Regions from separate parts of the Homo sapiens genome. Here all the other regions are linked to region 4. The links come from fine-mapping of genetic effects on gene expression. A gene starts in region 4. Each other region holds a variant in brackets. All regions are shown on one strand. Distances are between the middles of the regions.

Region 1 (5,154 bases), 38 kb before region 4:
ACCAGTGACAGAGGTGAGATTTGAATCAGGCAGCCTCTGTCTAGAGTTCCCTTCCTAACCTCCATTCTATACTGCTTTCAAAGATCCAGCCCTTCCCTCAAATCACGTTTTCTTACTTAGACTAGGGTTTGATTCATGTTTACTCACTGGGAATAAAGGTCAGTTAAACAGAATGAGAGAACAGGAAAGTCTTTCAAAATGATGCTTCTGTCTACTTACATTGTCTGTTACTTTAACAACTTAGGGATTCTTGGAGCAAGTAAAGAACCAAATATAAAGACTGCTTTGTGGGAGGTAGCTTGGATCCTTCATCATTTTTTTTCCCCCCATAACTCCTGAGTTCCACTGGAGACACAGATTCTCTGGGGGTAAGATTAGCGGATTCGTATTTTAACAGACCTCTGGCGGTTCTTCTCTATGCTAAAGTTTGAGAACACTGCTTTCAGCATTTCTAATCTCATCTCAAATTCATCAGGGAGCTGTTTCCTCCTTCATGAAAAAATCTTTGACTTAATGATAGCTACCCAGGCCTACCTTATTAGCTAAAGGGGGCATAGAGACTTAACTCTCAGTGGTTGACAATTATTGTAAAGTAATTCTTGCCGTTATTTTTCTCCCCTAAGGGTAAACTTAGCAGCAAATGGCATACTAGTAACTTAACCAATTGAAAGGGTAACAGCAAAACTAACAACCAAGTTTGCTTTTGATAGGTAGAATTGGCTGCCTATAAGGTGTGACATGAAAGTTGAAGGAAGGCTCACTTTTGCAAATATCTTTCCCACTGTTCTGCCAGGGGGAAGCAATTTTTTGGTTTGGGTTCCCCTAAATTCCAAATATGTTACCTAGGAGGAGTAATAAGTTATACATTAAACTGTTATGATTCAATCACAGCTTTAAAAAGATCGCAAAATTAGCTCTCAGGTTACTTAGCAAATAACCAATTAAGGTCTTGAGAGGATAATATTTGGGATGGGAAAATTTAGGTGGGTAGAAAAAGGCTGAGCAAAGTCAAGAATGTAGGCTGTTACCAAAGGCCAAATGGCAATACTGGACCAGCATATCTTCTTCTGCTATTTCCTTTATGCCCCTGAGGGTTCTTCTGAAGCAGGAGTTGGCAAACTTTTTCTTTTCTTTTTCTTTTGAGACAGAGTCTCACTCTGTTACCCAGGCTGCAGTGCAGTGGCATGATCTCAGCTCACTGCAACCTCCACCTCTGGGACTCAAGCGATCCTCCCGCCTTAGCCACCCGAGTAGCTGGGACCACAGGTGCACACCACCACACCCAGCTAATTTTTTTGTATTCTTGGTAGAGACAAGGTTTCACTATGTTGCCTAGGCTGGTCTCAAACTTGTGAGCTCAAGCGATCCGCCTGCCTTGGCCTCGCAAAGTTCTGGGATTACAGGTGTGAGCCACCACACCTGGCCGCATACTTTTTCTATAAAGAACCAGATAGAGGCTGGGCATGGTGGCTCACGCCTGTAATCCCAACACTTTTGGAGGCTGAGTCGGGCAGATGACCTGAGGTCAGGAGTTCAAAACCAGCCTTGACCAATATGGTGAAACCCTGTCTCTACTAAAAATACAAAAATTGGCTGGGCATTGTAGCATCTGCCTGTAATCCCAGCTACTGGGGAAACTGAGGCAGGAGACTCGCTTGAACCTGGGAGGCAGAGGTTGCAGTGAGCTGAGACTGCACCATTACACTCCAGACTGGGCAACAAGAGGGAAACTCCATCAAAAAAAAAAAAAAAACCAGACAGAAAATATTTTAGGCTCTTCAGTCATGTGGTCTCTGTCGCAACTGCTCAACTCTGCCATTGTAGTGTGAAAGCAGCCATGGACAATATGTAAACAAAACAGTGTGGCTGTGCTTAGTTATGAATCCTAATATTTGAATTTAATATAATTTTCATGTTATAAATTTTTAATTATCTTGTTTTTTCTCAACCATTTAAAATATGAAAATTATTCTTAGTTCAGGGCACATATAAAAACAGATGGTAGGCTGGATGGGCCAGTTTATTGATCCCTGTTCCAAAGCAAAATCAATTTGCTGTTTTCAATACATACTCCATGCTATCCTACTTCTTTACATTTGCTTTCATTATTCCTTCCACTTACGTAGAAGGAGCCCTACACACCCCAACCTACATGCCCATATGTACCCATCACCTAGTTCAATTATTAGCTTATTTTCAAAGTAAACTCTCATCCTCTAAGTGCCTTCATCTATACTTCTCTGATGGCCTTGATCATGGCAGATTTGTATTACTTTGTGGTCTGTGATTTTTTTTTAAATTTTATTTGTTTACGTATTTATTTATTTTTGAGATGGAGTCTTGCTCTGTTGCCCAGGCTGGAGTACAGTGGCACGATCTCTGCTTACTGTAACCTCCGCCTCACGAGTTCAAGTGATTCTCCTGCCTCAGCCTCCCGAGTAGCTGGGACTACAGGCACACACCACCGCGCCCAGCTAATTTTTGTATTTTTAGTAGAGATGGAGTTTCACTGCGTTGTCCAGGCTGGTCTCAAACTCCTGAACTCATGATCCTCCCGCCTTGGCCTCCCAAAGTGCTAGGATTACAGGCATGAGCCACTGTGCCCAGCCAGGATGTTTTATTTTTATATCCTCCATGGCACCGAGCCTAACAGAGTTAGCAAAGTGTCCTAAGTCAAGGAAGAACCATCAGCATTTAGGAAACAGCATAAAGATTGTACCCGGCCAAAAGTGGAATGAAAGTAGTTAAAAGAGAAGTGAAAACGTTTCTGAACACCTATAGTGGTTTGAATGACAGCCTCCCAAAAGATAGGTCCTTGTTCTAAAACCTGAACCCGGACAGGCGTAGTGGCTCACGCCTGTAATCCCAGCACTTTCAGAGGCCAAGGCAGGTGGATCACGAAGTCGGGAGTTCAAGACCAGCCTGGCCAACGTAGTGAAACCCCATCTCTGCTAAAAATACAAAAATTAGCTGGGCATGGTGGCGTATGCCTGTAGTCCCAGCTACTCGGGAGGCTGAGGCAGGAGAATCACTTGAACCTGGGAGGCGGAGATTGTGGTGAGCCAAGATCATGCCACTGCACTCCAGCCTGGGCAACAGAGTAAGACTCCACTCAGATAATAGACA[G/GATAA]ATAAATAAATAAATAAATAAATAAAACCTGGACCCTGTGAATGTGACCTTATTTGGAGAAAGGGTCTTTGCAGATGTAAGTAAGTGAAGGATCTTAAGATGAGATCATCCTGGACTACACCCAATGATAAGTGTCCTTAAAGAGACAGAAGAGAAGACACACAGAGAACGCCATGTGAAAATGGAGGCAGAGATTGGAGGGATATAGGCACCTGGAATGCAGAGGGAGTGAATTCCTGCCAACACATAAATTTCAGACTTCTGGGCCCCAGATTGTGAAGAATAAATTTCTATTGTTTTAAGCCACTCAGTTTGTGGACATTTGTTACAGAAGCCCTAGGAAGCTAATACAACCCTCACCACCTGCTTTCCCAAGTTGTGTTAACAAATATCTAATATTTATTTAGCACTTGTTATATTCAGCTTTAAATAGATAATTACATTAAACTTTCACAGCAATCTTATAAAATAGGCATTATTATTATTCCTTGTACAGATGAAGAAACTGACATCTGGAGAAGTTGAAGTAATTTGCACAAAGATTCACTTGGCTAGTAAGTCATGAAACCAGAATTGAACCCAAGCAATCTGATTCCAATTCTCTTCTCTTTTTTAAAAAAAATTTATATATATACATTTGTTATTATACTTTAAGTTCCAGGGTACACGTGCACAACGTGCAGGTTTGTTACATATGTATACATGTGCCATGTTGGTGTGCTGCACCCATCAACTCGTCATTTACCTTAGGTATTCCTCCTAATGCCATCCCTCCCCCTCCCCCCACCCCATGACAGGCCCCGGTGTGTGATGTTCCCCACCCTGTGTCCAAGTGTTCTCATTGTTCAATTCCCACCTATGAATGAGAACACGTGGTGTTTGGTTTTCTGTCCTTGAGATAGTTTGCTCAGAATGATGGTTTCCAGCTTCATCCATGTCCCTACAAAGGACATGAACTCATCCTTTTTTATGGCTACATACTATTCCATGGTGTATATGTGCCACATTTGCTTAATCCAGTCTACCATTGATGGCCAGTCCTCTTCTCTTAATCACTGTTACCTGTTAGGTTCTTAATCATTCTCCTTACATTTCACATACCTTAACAGAGAGGAAGAAATGTTGGTTAATGACTTCCTTCTTTGGGGAATGATATTTCCTAAACTGGATTTCTGCTCTCCCAGCTACTCATTCTTGGTGAACAAGCATAGAATAGTCTACTGCTCAGGTCAGGACAACAGAATCTCTCTCTGGGTCTCCTGCCCTTCATCCTTCTCTGATTCCTAAGGTGGGGGAGCTTGGAAGCTTTATGTTAGCCTTTAAAGAGTATGGCCTTCATGAAAGTCTGTTCCCCTGAGCAGCTCTATTTGAATGCATTTAATAACTGTAGCTTCTAGTTTCCAATAAGGAAAATAAATAAGAGGAAACACAACTGCAGGCAGCACTGGGATGATGTCAACAATGGAAATATCAGCATGGTTCCTGGAAAAGTCATGGAGAGCAAAGTGCTCAAGAGCCATTGAAATCCTTTCATAGGAATAGGTTCTGAGGACCAAATGTTGTTAGAGTCTTCAGGGAAGCAAGATAGCACAGTGGTTAAGAGCATGAGTGCACTTGGGTCTAGGTTTGAATATCCTGGCATTATCACTTACTAGCTCTGTGACTGAGCAAATAACCTTGAGTCTCAGTTTTCTCATCTTCAAAGTGGGGAATAAAAATATTACCTACTTCATAGGTAATATTTATGTAGAACACTTGCACACGTAAGCCCTCAATATTATCAAAGTGTTAGCTGTTAAATTGTGTATGAAAGTCTTGAATGAAGGTTTTCACTCACCGCCTTTTCTCTCACCACCACCCTTACTCCTTTCCCTTTTACTAAATATAATTTTGCCACTTTGGCTGGGCGCGGTGGCTCAACGCCTGTAATCCCAGCACTTTGGGAGGCCGAGGCGGGCAGATCACTTGAGGTCAGGAGTTTTGAGACCTCCTGAAACCTCATCTCTACTAAAAATACAAAAAATTAGC
Region 2 (5,154 bases), 880 kb after region 4:
CCTTTCATATGCCAAAGGAGAAACCAACCAACCAACCAAAAAAAAAAAAAAACCAAAAACCACAAGTCACTACAATGAATACAGGTCATCATTACATAGGCATTCCTAACATTAACAAAAGAAGACTCAACATCAAAAGACTGTCCTTCCAGGAACTTGTCAAGCATGAACTAAGACTGAATAAGGGTCTTGCAGCAGGAGCCATATATCCAGGCATAGAGAGATGGTGTAAGGCCAGAAGAGAAGGACCCAAAACAGTTGCCAGGGAAGATTCAGATAAAGGTTTCTAGTTACACTACTTAAAAATTACCATCAATTTTTAGTAAAAAGAGGTTAAATGAGTTACAAAAAATCCTTACTTCCTATAGTATTGTCTTTAGCTATGTATCACAAAGTATATACAGTTAAAAAACAAGAAACCAAATGAGGACCCAGCTCACAAGAGTCATTACAGGTCATGGCAATTTAAATTAAGCTGGTCTTAAATAGTTTTGAATGTTGCGAAAAGAGTTTTTCTCTGGTTTTGCTCTGAGGCTTTGCATTTTTAAAAGAGCATTGAACAAAGTTACAACTAAGCGATATGTTAGTACAAAGAGAAAAATTGCAAAGGCTACAAATACACACACACAAATTTTCAATATGCTATGATGAATATAACATAATATAATGCCTACCATTAATTTTGCAATAAGGTCAAGGCAATGATGTTATCAGCAATGAACGAAAGCAGAGTGATTCTTGACACAGTCAGAATTAAGCATTAATAATGTTTCCTATTTGTGTCGTAATGGGGTGTGATTTGCCTCCGACAGCACCTTTTATTATCAGTACAGCCAGGCATCTATGTTTTCCATCTGAGGTGGTCATTGTTCTAATTATTCCCACATGCTTACCATCCTCAATACATGCGAAATAATACCAGTAATGCATTTTTAAAAAGAAGCAATATGCTTAAATATATTATAGATACTCTGTCATCCTGGATTGCTTTTTACTCTTTAGACTGTAGAAAGCTGCGTGGCTATTTTACGTTGATAGGCATTTGTATTGATTGGAGGAGTAAAAAGAAAGTACTCATTACAGAGCTGCTAACAGTGTAATTATAGAGTGGCACCCACGCTGGGGTGTGTTAGGAATCACGTTCCTGTTTTAACATCATGTAGAGTGTAACACCGGTAGCTTAGTGGAATATGCCCTTTGTACTTATAATTGCTTGCAATTAGTCCAGGGTAGTAGGTATCTTTTTATCTCCTACCTATCAGAATTCTGATGTTGGGATATTGGTCATCGGATTTACTTGCAATACTTAAAACTGTCGAAATTCATACAATAAAATTTATTTCTTTTTAGACTTTAGCTTAATGGTTAGAGGCCTCAATTTCAATCTAGGTTCTGTCACTTACCAGCTCTGTGAGCTTGGGGAAATTTCTTCATCTTTCCAACCCTCGGTTTTCTTATCTGAAATGTGGGGTTACTAATGCCACCCCTGGAAGATTTATGAAAAGAATAAATTATGGAGGCAGAGTACTATGCGTGCGAAAAAACAGCAGCTGGAACAATGTTGTCATGGTTATGGCACATGAATCAGTTGATCCAGAATCTAAATTATTTTTAGGATAACGTTACGTTTTCAGTAGTGACCTAGCATCCTACCAATATGTTTCCTGTAATATTAACAGAAATTGGCACGTTCAGTTAGTATCTAATTGTCTTAAAGATGTTTAAAAATTCCATAGACTGGGCTCACACTCTTAAAGTTTCTTGAAGCCTTTAAGAACGGTTCTTTCAACCGTTCGGCTGAACTTCCTTTTCCCTGTGGTTGGGTTTCCTATTCATTTGTCAAATTGCTTGAGTTTCATGCTGCTAAAAGCAAATTTACATGCAGATCCAGCACAACTTGAGGTTCTTGGCCAGTCTACAACTGACCAGTTCACAGCCTTCCTCTATGGAAATGCAGAAGGTAAAAAAGGGAGCAATTTTCCTCTGAGTGAAATCCTCCAGGCCTCACATGCCTGTATTTTATCTCCGACTTCTTACAGAAATTCTGGTTCTGGAATTAAAGCAGAGGCTTTTTAACCATCAATAACACTAATATTTTCTCCCTTAAAGT[G/T]TCTGTTTGACAGAGTTTTATGGTCCTAACAAAGGTATCAGATTTCTCGGCTGGAGTGCACAGAGTTTAGTGGACAATGACAAACTCTAGAGAAGCAGTTAGGTCTAGCTCCTAATTCTAGTTCTGTTACTCCTTCGCTGTGGGAGCGGCAGCCAGTTACTTAGATTCCCAGAGCTTCAGTTTTTTCCATTCATGCAGTGATTGTAATCACAGCTCCTTCTTGGGTGTTTTGGGTGAAAAGTAAAAGAGAAAATACATAAAAAGAAACCTGTAGAATCTCTTCCATTTTTCCTGTGATATTTCTTTTTGTATTCCAATGATAAGGAAATCCCCTAAACTTATTTTCCCCTGCTGTAGAGTACAGACGGCACCTGCGAAGCTATAAGATGTGTGTCCAATTAAAAACATTTCAGCTCTTTTGCTTACAATATCAGAGTTAATAAACTTATAGCTAGAGAATGGACCATATACTCTACTCTAATACAATGCTTATCTCTGTATATGGAAAGATTGAAACATATTAGTGACAAAAGCTGAAATTTTAAAACGTTTTCCTTTACTCACTTATACCATGCATTATTTAACTGATGTAGGGCAAAGTCATTTAAATTTTGTCCTTTAGACAGAATTCATCTGTCCCTTCATGTGCAAAATAGTTTACCTTAATTTCCCATAGGTAGAAGGTTTGAAGTTTCTCCTGTGAATTCTGGCTTCCCAAATTATACTTGCACAACCAGTAAACAGGACAGAGCCATGCGGTAAGAGGGCAGCACTCGCTTCACAGAGCCTACTAATGTCTCAGAGAGAGGAGACCTCAGTCAGGATATTGCTGAGGTTTTGAAGTCTGGCTTCAGACAGGTCTGTCAATGCAGGGACTTCATTAGGGCTGGAGAAAAATAATGAAATAAAGGTTTTGGAGTATTGGCTAAAGCAAGGTGTTTTGAGGCAAGATCTTCAAAGAGCCTTGGGGTGTAAACTGGCATGTGATGATTTCTACTGAAAAGCTGATGAATTAGAAAGTTCTCAGAATAAAAAGTAAAGTCATTTGTAACTTTTATCTTCCTGAGCAAGAGTCCCTTGAAATAATCACGTTCTCTTTAAAAAGACAGTGGAATAGTAAATGTTAATGTAGATACTCATCAGACTGGTAAAATTAACACCTTTTTTGGGGGGATGATAAAAAAGGGGTCCTCTTAAATATTGGAAATGTGAAGTGTTACAGTTTTTAAGTAATCTAATATCCTCTTTTAGACATAAAAGGTTATATATTTATACATTGTTTATGGTAGCAAAACTTGAAAGCAAAATGAGTGCCCATCAATAGGAAGATACATTATGGTATACTCAAACCATAGAATTTTACAGCTATTACAAATAAGCTTTATTGAGAGAATTTGCATGAAGTACTGTTGCGATAGAGATGTGTAATATGACTTCATTTTTTATAAAATAAAAAATGTGTTTCTATGTGTGTGGATGTATGTGTATGTGTGGAATGTATATTGTGAACAGCAAAATGCATTGCACAATTTTGATTTTATTATTCAGGCTATTGCAATAGGGAGAATGTTCATTAATGAAGGACATCTTGAAAAAATAACAAAAAAAGAACAGAAAAAAAGGGAGTACTAGTTTTATAAAAAGAAAAACAATAAAGTCATAAAAGGTGAAAGAGAGATTTCTAAGTCCTGAGGAAGGACTTAGAAAAAAAAAGTGGGTCTTAGAAAAAAAAAAGTGGGTCTTAGAAAAAAAGGACTTAGAAAAAAAAGTGGGTCTTTTTTCATAATATGGGAGGGGGCAGGTAAGATGGCTCTTTGAGGTTACAAAAGGGTTCTGGGGTGTTTCACACACCATTGCTTTGTGAGATCACAGAACTCTGAGTTCTGCATTGTACATATGTCTATATGAATTTGTATGTATAACGTGTATTCATGTGTAATTGTATATATACGTGTATATACACTAAGATAATAGGTGAGTACTATGGGGGTTCAAGAGCAGAGATCAAGCAAAAAAGGAAAAATCTCTGCCTTATAAAACAACAAGTAACATGATCATATTACTCATTTACATATAATTTAGACATAGATCAATCAATTTATTCATGTATATAAGAACATTTGGATAATAGTAATAGAAATAACATTAAGTTTAATAGCACATATTTTTCTGAGCATAAAATGAACGCATAGAACAACTAGATAGTATTCAAAGCATCTGCAGGTTTAGCTGTCTTTCTACGGCAACTTTACACAGACAGACATTCTTATTTTTCCGTCAAGAAAAATTGTGTCCATTTCCATTGTGTTCTCAGATTCACAATTAGAACAGTGTCATATTTAAAATAATTTTTTAGTTTGATATTACAAAAATTCTATAAGCATAGAATTGCTTTAATTGAGTAAAATACATGGGTAATACTTTGCCAAGTATTCACATGTTCAGTAGCCTTTGTAATCCTTAACACGTGACTTTATTACTTCCAAGAAAAATTGTCTGGGGGCTCAATAAGTTCAAGAAAGGAATGCTCCTGTGATATTAGAGAGGTTTGGTAACAAAGATCTAATTAGGAACAATCACTTCTCCACATCCCTATCATTAACATATACCATTGCATTTTTTAAACTAAAACTGAATGAGCTTAAAAATATAATAATCCATGCCTTAAGATTACAAATCTTACCAGAACAATAAGTGAGCAATTTCCAAGTAAATGAAGTACTGCCTCCCCTGTGGTTTAATTGTGTTTTGTGTCCTCTTATTGTCCTTCTGATGACATTTTCCCACCTTACTCAAGAGCTCTACCTATAGTTAGGGCAGCTTTGGGAACAGACTCTATTCATTTCCCAGTTAAAAAGATGAACAAGAAGAAAAAGCACTAGAACAAGGCTCTTGTCCTCTGAATGTGTACTCCAAATGATGTTGGAACAAGAGGCAGATGTAAAAAGAGGATAGCTTACAATGTGAAATCCTTCTTGACATAAGTGAGATTTCTGAAGCAAAATTAATTTTCAATAAAAATTAAAATAAAATATTTTCTAATA
Region 3 (5,154 bases), 44 kb after region 4:
TACAACTACTATAATATGCATAATGGCGTTTGCTAAATAGCAACTCTTCTTCCTGGAAAATTTCCTTTACCTCATACAGATGAATCATTTACTTCCAGAAAATAGTACACTTACTGTAGGCTTAGTTCAATCCTAGTGATTAAATTCGGCTAGCCAAGTCAGGTCAGATTTCATGGTAACATGACAAAAGGGAGAATAAAACTCTAAAAGGACATTGAAAATGTCCTAAACACCATATCCAATGGCTTTTCACAGTCTTCATCCTTCTAAGCTTCAGAGCACCACTTGACAGCAATAACCTTCTCTTTAACATTTTCTTCTCCATTGCCTTCCAGTGATGTGATGTCTGAGGTCTTTTCTTTTCACTCTGACTTGTCCTGACAGGGAAGCAGTATTGATTGAAGAACAAAGGTTTGTGGGTTGTAGTGAGAACTTGGGGTAATAGTTTCTGTAAAGTGTGTAGTAGGTTCTCAATCAATTATAGCTATTAGCTTTTGTTATTACCTTTGACTGAATATTTTCCTTCACCCAAGCCTTACATTTACGTTCTCTGTTCTTCATATACTACAGAATTGTATTTACTTCTTTTGTTTCAAATGTTACCCCTTTATTAATAAACAGCTGCACAATGTCACATCTGAACCTGTCTGTGAATGCATGGTGTAAGTATTTTTATTGTTTTTTTTTTAAGGCCTGGGCAGTGTATGACAGGCAGAAGCTTCTTTCTTCCAAATCTGTGTGCGTCTAAGAGACTCGATGTCACTCCACCTCCCCATTTTTGCCAAGTGCAGCATCACAGATGTGTGTCTGGGTCTTCCTCCAGTCCTTCAGCATTACACTCCCCAGAGCTCTATGAATACAATGGAGGCTGGGATGCCAATACATTCCAGCATGATCTTAGTTTGGTTTCATGTGGGACTTCTAGTGTACTACGACATTCTGATGATGGGTTCAAGGTAACTTTCTATGACTGGCACAAAAATGAGAGAAATTGTGTTATAGCTTTAGCTGTGGGGCTTTGGGCAGGTCATGTCACCTCTCTGGCTTAGTTCCTTTATTTGTAGGATGAGTGATTTAGACTTGATCTCAACACTTTCTCGTGCTAGGATGCTGAGTTTCTTGAAGACAATGGGCACGTAGAGGATAGCAAAGCACATGATATTCTTGAAGCTTTCAAATGAAACAGTGTTGTTCAAGGCAGGATAATGGGAATAGATTGCATTCCCAAAAATGTTCACATTAGGGATTTTTTTTTTTTTTTTTTTTTTTGAGACAGAGTCTTGCTTTGTCCCCCAGGCTGGAGTGCAGTGGTGCAAGCTCCATCTCCCAGGTTCACGCCATTCTCCTGCCTCAGCCTCCCAAATAGCTGGGACTACAGGCGCCCGCCACCATGCCTGGCTAAATTTTTTTGTATTTTTAGGAGAGACGGGGTTTCACCGTGCTAGCCAGGATGGTCTCAATCTCCTGACCTTGTGATCCACCCGCCTCGGCCTCCCAAAGTGCTGGGATTACAGGCGTAAGCCACCACACCCAGCCGGGGTAATTTCAATAGCTATTACGACCACAGGATTGCCATCCCGACAAGCCTCATATACTTGTTACTATTTTTATCACTGAAATGATAATTTATTGGTCATTTTAATCATAAAAGTCCTGCTGATTTTTAGTTTTGTAGATTACATAATGAAAAAAATCTTCTTTATTTATTTAGGCGCCCAGTACATGTTCATTGTAAAAATTTCAAAGAATAGAGAAAATTTTTTTAAAGGCAGTAAAAATCATCCCCAAATTCTGGCCACCTGGGAGTAATAATTTATAAAAATTTGGTTAGTGTTCTAATGTATGTGACCTTACATAAATTAGAACAAACTATTAATGCTGTCTTGTAACCTGCTTTCTTTCTTTGTTTTTTGTTTTTGTTTTTGTTTTTGTTTTTTTGAGATGGAGTCTCACTCTGTCGCCCAGGCTAGAGTGCAGTGACGTGATCTCGGCTCACTGCAACCTCTGCCTCCCAGGTTCAAGAGGTTCTTCTGCCTCAGCCTCCTGAGTAGCTGGGATTACAGGCGTGTGCCACCATGCCTGGCTAATTTTTTGTATTTTTAGTAGAGACGGGGTTTTGCCATGTTGGCCAGGCGGGTCTCAAACTCCTGACCTCAGGTGATCTGCTTGCCTTGGCCTCCCAAAGTGCTGTGCATTTGGCCTATAACCTGCTTTCTGAAAAAGTTTTTGGTATATTGTAGATATCTTTCTTCAGTAGTGGCCATTGATTTAGAATCATCTTTTGTAATAGCCATATTCCATTGTCTGGTGGATCCATAATATATACCATTATATATTTATTTATTCCTTTCATGATGGATATTTAAGTTATTTCTAATTTTCCACTATTATAGATAGAACTGTGATGAACATCAAGTCATATCAAAGCTTACAAAC[A/AT]TATTGAAACACGCTTATTTTGAAATAAGAGCAGAGTTATTTTGTTAGGCAATTAAGAGGCAGTCAGTAAATATACTTTGATAATGATTGTCCCTGCGATGCCCTAATTCCTGATTTGCAATAGATTAATGCACTGTCACCATTATTTTCCAAAAGGTTAGAAACTTACACTTAATCACTGTAACTAAAAATTAATTTTATGCTATTAGAAATGATAAGGTAATACAAAGTATCCTTTCCCCAGCTGAAACTATTATAGTTATTTCTAATTCAGCCAGCCCTTATGAAAATAATAAAACATGTATTGGCTTCTTATCTCATTTGAATATGAAGGTTTATTGTCATTCATGTTAAATGTTGTTTTTTTTTTTGTTTTGCTTGAGTTAATAATACCTCAGAGTTGGACTAACACCATCTCCTTTTGTTAATCATCGACTGCCAAAAATTCAAAATCCCAAGCAGATTGAAGGAACAGTATAAAGTAATTTTCAGAGGTTTATTTTGGGAATGAATTTACAGAATATTTGCTTTTTTATCCTAGTACCTCATACAGTGCCTCGGACATAGTGGGCACTCAATAAATATTTATTGAAGAATGAATGAATGAAGCACATTCAATTTGTGACTTAAATAATGGTGAATATCTGAACCAATGGGGCCAACTATTTCTACAACTAAAATAATCCATTGGGGTTACCACAGAATTGACTTTCTACACTTAGAAATAAGGTGAATGTTTTCCACTAAACATAACTCACCAGTTTTATCATTCTTAATATTCATTGTTTATAGAGGGAGTTGGAAAACTGTCTCCTGCGGGCAAAGTCCAGCCTGCTGCCTATTTAGTACAACATGTGTGCTAAGAATAATTTTAAAAATATTTTTAAATGGTTGAAAACAATCAAGAGAAGAATAATATTTCATGGCAGGTAAGAATTATATAAAATGTAAATTTACTGTCTGTAGAGAAAATTTCACTGGAATCCTACCATGTTCATTCTTTCATGTATTGATGAAATTTCATGTTTTATGGTTGAGTTACAACAGTGGCATTGAGTAGTGACCCACAAAGCCAAAAATATTTACTGTCTGGCCTTTTACAAAAAAATTTTTGCCAACTCCTAGTTTTGACCCAAAACTGTTTCTTGGGGACAGGGATGCATTTTGAGTTACCAGCATTATCGAATGCTAGAGTGACAGCAACCTTGGCAAAGGCAAGTCAAGGCAGTATGTCTGTTTTGTTAACTACTAGAAAATCGTAGTGGTAGTATATTCTCTTTTCTTTTTTATCATCTCTGATTGAGGAGACCAGTCTCTTTTTTTGAGATGGAGTTTCACTATTTTTGCCCCTGCTGGAGTGCAATGGTGGGATCTTGGCTCGCTGCAACTTCTGCCTCCTGGGTTCAAGTGATTCTCCTGCCTCAGCCTCCCAGGTAGCTGGGATTACAGGTTCACGTCACCACACGAGGCTAATTTTGTATTTTTAGTAGAGATGAGGTTTCACCATGTCAGACAGGCTGGTCTCAGATTCCTGACCTCAGGTGATCCGCCCACCTTGGCCTCCCAAAGTGCTGGGATTACAGGCATGAGCCACTGTGCCCAGTCTGAGAAGACCAATCTTATGCAAACCTCTTACTGGGCCCAGCAATTCAACTGTGACCCCTCTGGCCTCTCTGGCTTCCCTCCAGAACCCTGCCTGCCCCATGGTTGTATAGGCTGGGGACACTAATGACTCCCCCAAAAGCCTGTCAGGATTTTAAAAATTGGGCTCTTCGGAACTTCTGTGGAAAATTGAAGAGGTTTGTCTATATCCTAAATGTATGAAATTATTGAATTCTTACATGAATTTTAGTTTGAGATTTTAATTTTAATTAGTTTCTTCTACAGTGGAGATACTCATTTGCACCAAGTTCCTGAGAGTAACTAAAGATCACGTGAAGAAATAAACAGTTCAATTATTGTTATTCTTTCACAAGATCGCTATAACACTGATTATAAAAGAGAGAGATGTTCTTACAGACACATGCTCTTTATTTCTGACTACCTAACAATTGTTTTTAATAATGGCCATTTCAAGCTGTCCCAGTTGTAGCATGGGTCATTTGCTATACGTATTGTATTAGGATTCTCCAGAGAAACAGAACCACACACATACACACACACGTGTGTTTGTGTGTAAATATATGTAGACATATGTAAAAATATGTAAATATATATAATTTAAATTATAGAAATTACATATATATTTCTGTATGTGCATATATATGTATGTGTAAATATATGCATGTAATTTCTATAATTTAAATTATATATATTTTTAGTTTTCATTACAGTTTTCTAAAAAAATTGGCTGATGAGATTGTGGGCACTGGCCACTGTGAAGTGTGCAGGGCAGGCTGGAAATTCCAGCAGGAGTTGATGTAGTTTTGTATCCAAAGGCAGTCTGGAGGCAGAATTCTCTCTTCTTCAGGTGACCTCAATCTTTTCTTTCAAGGCCTTCAACTGATTAGATGATGCCACACACATTATGGAGGGAAATCTGCTTTACTCAAAGTCTACCAATTTAAATGTTAATTATATATACAGTATACCTTCCCCGCAACATCTAGGCCAGTGTTTGACCAAACAAATGGGTACCACAACTTAGCCAGTTGACACTTAAAAGTAACCATCACACCTATGTGAATGCATACATATAAACATATATATGTATGAAAG
Region 4 (5,154 bases):
TGTGCACAGCTTGCTTTAATATTTCTCAGAAGCTCAGATCACATGGGAGGGCGCTTCAGCCTGTCACAAGGCTGCAATGTGACAAGCTGAGCTGGATGGAGGCTCTCACATAAAGCCTAGTCAACAGGGGCCTCTGAAATCAGCTTCTATTTATATCTCAAAGCCTGCCAACTCCTACACAACCCCAAGAACTAAGGATGCAGCGTTCATATATCTAACATAAGAAAACAAAAAAAGGGCTGCTAGTTTTTTCCTAATGTAGGAAAAACTACAGAACAATCTCAATCTAGAAGATGAAAGCATAGTCAAAGCTAAAATGGTCAAGGTTGTTGATAAAAAACTAAGCACAGTGGAGACAGTGTAAAAAAGAATCCTCATTTAGTGAGGATTTAGGGGATGAAGTGGGGGATGTGTGTTCCCATTAGGTATTGCATTCCCCTTGTATTTTAGAAAAAAATACCATTACTATTTATTGCCTTTAAAGTAATTAGCAACTTGAGCATGCACGTGTCAGCTCTATCAGGTATAGCTAGAATGCAGATTTTATAAAGTTTATGGCTTCCTCTAACTTACAGCTTAAAAAAACACCCGAGTGTAACTGAACAATTCTCCAATTCCAATTCTGAACAAAGAGCTTTTACACCTATGGAATACAGTTCTTTCAGGTGCACATGATGTGATGAGATGGCATGAATTCCCACTCACCTGGGAATGGAGACCTGAGTTCAAGTCTCTAGTCTGCCACTAAGTCAGTGACCTTGGGCAAGTCCTTACTTTCCAGATTTCAGTTCCCTCTTTGCCAAATGGAGTAGAATTGACTTTTAAAGGCTCCTTTTCAGGGCCTGGGAGATAGAAAACAGGAGACAACTACAAAGAATCCTTAATTTTTTAGGGGGGTGTGGGGAAACATTTTAACAAAAAACTTCAAAGATAAAATTGCAGTATTTTCACCAACTGAGTTCTGAAAGCCTACTCTTTAAAAAAAATCCTAAAAATAAGGAATAAAATACATTCGTTTATGTTTTTAGAAGTCTGTATCTAAATCCCAGGTTTAAGAACGGGGATGTGTGACCTATATGTTCCTTTATCTTGGTATCTCCTTAGATGCTATCCCTTAGGAGACACTCAATCAATAAAGATAATCCGACCCTTCCCCGAAAACACACCTCCACGGAGTGCGTGGAAAGCGAGCAAAAAATTTCACATTCATCAGCCTAAATGCACCAAACAAAGGAGGTGTTCCATTTCCTCCATGAAAACGGATCTCAGGATAAAAACGCAGCGACGTCGAGAAGCCCAAAAGACGACGCCGAGAACCCCCGGCCCCATGTTCCAATGGATTTTGGAACAAGTTCGGGTCCCACTGATACCCCATCCCCCTCTAAGCAAAGGCCTCACTCAATAAAGCCCAACAGGGCCCTCTCCGAAAACCACTGAGTCATGCAGAACAGCAGCTCAGCAGGCCCGGCCAGCCCTTCGCCTGCAGGCCCCACGCGGATCCCCGACCCCCGACCCCCGACCCCGAACGGCTCCTCTTAGGGGAGAGCTAGGGGGGGCTGCAACGGGCAGGGGGCGCGGCCGCCGCCTCGGCCTCTTTGTTTCTCTGGGTCGTGGTGCCCACGCCGGGCGCCGCCGCGGAGGCGAGCGGCCTAGAGGCCGGCCCCGCAGAGGCGGCACGCCGTGCATTGTTTCCCGACCGTGCTGTGGAGCGAGCCAGGGACGCCGGGAGCCAGGTCTCGGGCCACGACGACAGGATGACGCCTCCGTCTTTGTGCTTCCTGGGCTGGCGGGCGGGCTCCCCTCCCCCGGACGCCGCCATCCGCGGCCTGCTCCGGCTTCGCCATTGGCCCGCGGCGCCCCGGTCCCTTCACTCCCGCCCCCGGCCCGGCAACAAGGAGCCCGGCTCCCACCCGCAGCCCCGTATCACTCACCCTGCAGGGTCCCAAATGCGAAAGCCGGGTTCGCGCGCGAAGCCGGCACGATGAGGCCGGGCCGAGGCCTCCGGGAAGGCTGAGCCGGGCGCCCTGGTGCCGCCGCCGCGGGCCGGGAGCGGGTCGGAGCAGCAGGCGGAGGTGGCGCCGCCGCCGCCGCGGGGTCTTCCTTTGTTCCTGCAGCAGCGTCGAGCGTGGCCGGGACACGCCGGAGCTCGGGAAGTGGGAGGAGGGAAGCGAGGGGGGGCCGAGGAGGAGGTGGAGGGAGGACCGGCGGCCGCAGCGGCTAACGCTGCTCGAGGCGCTCGCCTGTCGTCGCCTCACGCCTCCACAGGCCGCAGGTTGGGCGGACGAGGAGGGCGAGCGGACCGCGCGCCGCGAGGCCTGGGGCCGTAAGGGCCCGCTGATGGCGCTCTTCGCCGCTCCTGCCACCGCCGGGGAAGCTGCGCGGCTCCCGGGAGCGAGCGAGCCCGCGTAGGAGATGCACACAGCTCCGCGTCCCGGCCGACTAACGCACTCGCCGCCCGGCGCCCGGGCTGTGAGGGAAAAGAGGGGGAGGGGGCGGGACCCGTGCGTCAGCGAAAACCCCGGCGGCGGCGGCGGCGGCGGGGAGCGCGGTGACGTCGCGGGCCCAAGGCCACGCCCCCGGTGCCCTGTCAGTAGGTCCAGGAGGCGGGGCCGAGACGGGTTGCTGTGCCTTCTCGCGGAGCCCAGCCACTGGCCTGGCAGTCGGCCCCTAGGGTGGAGCTGGGAAGAGCGAGTCCTGTGGAGGATGCGTTTCTATTTTTAACCCAATTGTCCGCCCTCAGCCTCCCTCCTTCGGATTTTCTCATTCAAACCCGTTTTTCGCCATCCTAGTTCTCACGCTTTGTCTCCAGCCCTGGGCAGACATTCCCTCCCCCAAGAATCGTAAGGATTCACCCCCAGAAAAGGAAAAGAATTGCCTTATGGCTTCGAGGTCTTTTCTGTTTATGAAACCTCCTCACTCCCCACACCCATTTTGAGCTCCGAAGTCCAGCCCGAGCGTGGCCCTGACGCAGCTGGCGGCGTGCGTTCGCTCGCCCAAGGTCACGGGTGGTTGTGCGGAGTGAGGAAACGCGCGGCCGCCCAGGGCTGCCAATGCCCCGGCGGCGCTGTTCTGAACAAACTGTTTTGGCCAGCCTGTGAAATCCCTGGAAATTGACGATTCCAGCAAAGCGTCGTGAACTGGGAAAGCACCAAATGTTCTACTCAAAAGCCGCGAAGGGACAAAACAAGCTAGACCCGAGGCCCAGATGAAGCGGGAGGAGGAGGCTTGCGAGAGGAAGTTCAAGGGGGGAGGTACTAGGCGGGCAGTTCAGGCACGAGGCACAGGTCCCCCATGGGTGAAAGGATGACTTTACCCGGAACACTGGGAACCTTTTCAGAGCACAAACAAAAAACATTTTCAACTGACCGCTCCAAGTGAATTTCAGTTCAACTCAAAATAACAAAATTACTAAGTCGGAAAGGACTTCTGAAATTTTCTAGTAAACAACGGTCTAACGAATACATAGAAATGATGTTTAGGGTTTATATTAGCCACATATAGAATGGAGAAGAGGTCCCTTCAGTGTTTCTCAAAGTTGGTAATCAGAAAAAAAATCACCTGGGGTGATTAAAGATTCCTACGCATCTCCCCTGGATATGGTTTTGGTTGTTCCGGGGTGGGAGCGGGGGTGGGGGGGGGCCCATATTGCGCTTCAGGTGGTCCTTATTTATAATCTGTATTTGGGGGAATGCTATACTGATAGCTTGAGCCACCACTGCCAAATCAAACAGTTCTCCGCCACAGTTAGCAAAGTACCTGGAGCATAACAACCTTTTGTTTTGTTTTTTAACAAATTCGGGTTTATTACTGTGATCAATTAATGTATTAGAGATTTAAGTAGTTTGGGTCACTGGTCCCACGACCACTGCAATTTATTTCCTTAAATTAGCAGATGAATTAGTAAAAAAAAAAAAAAAATAGCAGCTACCATTTACAGGCCATTTTCAGTGCCAACTATTTTCCATTTAGGGTCTCATTTTATCCTCACAGCAATTCACTGAGATAGGTACTATTATCATGTCCCTTTCTACAGATAAAGAAACAATGACTAAAAAGGCTTGCCCAGGGCACTGAAGGGCAGGGAGGCAATGGAGGTGATTATTATTGAGAACAAAAATAACTTGAATTTTAACTTGAATTTTTTTCTTTCTCTAGAATTGGAGTTATAGTGAGTGAAACAAGATAATTCCTGAAGAAGCATACTTTAAAAAAAGTCTAAGGGTAATGAGGCAAGCTCATTATTGAATAGTGTATTCCATAATATTATGTCACCTTCTGATAATTCATCTTCTCTATCACCCATTTATAATTTTCTCTGAGACTGTTTCAATCAAGAATGTTGCAGGTATTGGACCTAAACATACCAAGATTCCTTTTTAGCAGCTATTTTCTAGTGGTTCTCAAAATGTGGTCTCCAGACTACCTGGGAACTTATTAGAAATACAGATTCTCAGGCCCCAGCACCAAACCTGTGGAGTCACAAACTGGGGGTTAGCACAGCCGTCTGTGGCTTAATAAGTCCTCCAGGTGATTCTGATGCATACACAAGTTTGAAAACTATTGACTTAACCCTACCATGGCATCAGGTGACCCCTCTTTTTTTCAGATGGCTCACACCATGTGAAAGGGAAAAGTTTAAAAAAAAAAAGTCTCATATTACTGGTGTAACAGATTAAGGGATATACTTCTAAGAAGGTTTTTGTTTTATTTTTGTTTTCTTATATTTTAAATTTTCACTTGCACTCCAAAGACAAACTGAATTGCTAAACACAGAATATATAAGAGAATGCTTCTAATATAACATGCCAAAGGGCTTTGCTCTATAGTCATTAGGGAAGGTCAACTTTGGCCTGAAACCAACCTCTGTAAAAAAGATAATGAGTAGCCAGTCGTGGTGGCTCACACCTGTAATCCCAGCACTTTGGGAGGCCATGGGGGGTGGATCATGAGATCAAGAGACTGAAACCGTCCTGACCAACATGGTGAAACCCTGTCTCTACTAAAAAATATACAAAAATTAGCTGGGCATGTTGGTGCGTGCCTGTAGTCCCAGCTACTCGGGAGACTGAGGCAGGAGAATCACTTGAACCCAGGAGACAGAGGTTGCAGTGAGCAGAGATTATGCCACTGCACTCTAGCCTGGTGACAAAATGA

The links. PIP is the estimated chance that this variant, and not a neighbour inherited with it, causes the effect.
Region 1: its variant is the best candidate, but not a certain one, in a credible set for the expression of ZFAND5 in whole blood (INTERVAL, PIP 0.57).
Region 2: its variant is the best candidate, but not a certain one, in a credible set for the expression of ZFAND5 in whole blood (INTERVAL, PIP 0.53).
Region 3: its variant is the best candidate, but not a certain one, in a credible set for the expression of ZFAND5 in whole blood (INTERVAL, PIP 0.52).

Annotation. Positions count from the first base shown.
Region 1 is chr9:72,325,042-72,330,195 of GRCh38, forward strand. It overlaps LINC01504 (long intergenic non-protein coding RNA 1504), which reads left to right. Exons shown (of 5, transcript NR_110952.1): 3 at 3,623-3,680. Among named protein-coding and RNA genes, the nearest start is that of LINC01504, 22 kb to the left of the region's middle. The variant G/GATAA (reference allele first, on the strand shown) is at 3,127.
Region 2 is chr9:73,240,380-73,245,533 of GRCh38, forward strand. LOC105376082 (a long non-coding RNA gene) reads right to left here. Exons shown (of 5, transcript XR_929931.2): 4 at 2,772-2,996; 5 at 20-2,050. Among named protein-coding and RNA genes, the nearest start is that of ANXA1, 91 kb to the left of the region's middle. The variant G/T (reference allele first, on the strand shown) is at 2,111.
Region 3 is chr9:72,407,165-72,412,318 of GRCh38, forward strand. No RefSeq gene overlaps it. Among named protein-coding and RNA genes, the nearest start is that of ZFAND5, 45 kb to the left of the region's middle. The variant A/AT (reference allele first, on the strand shown) is at 2,437.
Region 4 is chr9:72,362,765-72,367,918 of GRCh38, forward strand. ZFAND5 (zinc finger AN1-type containing 5) reads right to left here and starts at 2,444. Exons shown (of 7, transcript NM_001102420.3): 1 at 1,932-2,444; 2 at 706-842. RefSeq lists enhancers at 1,447-2,150, 2,151-2,855 and silencers at 1,463-2,292, 2,303-2,682.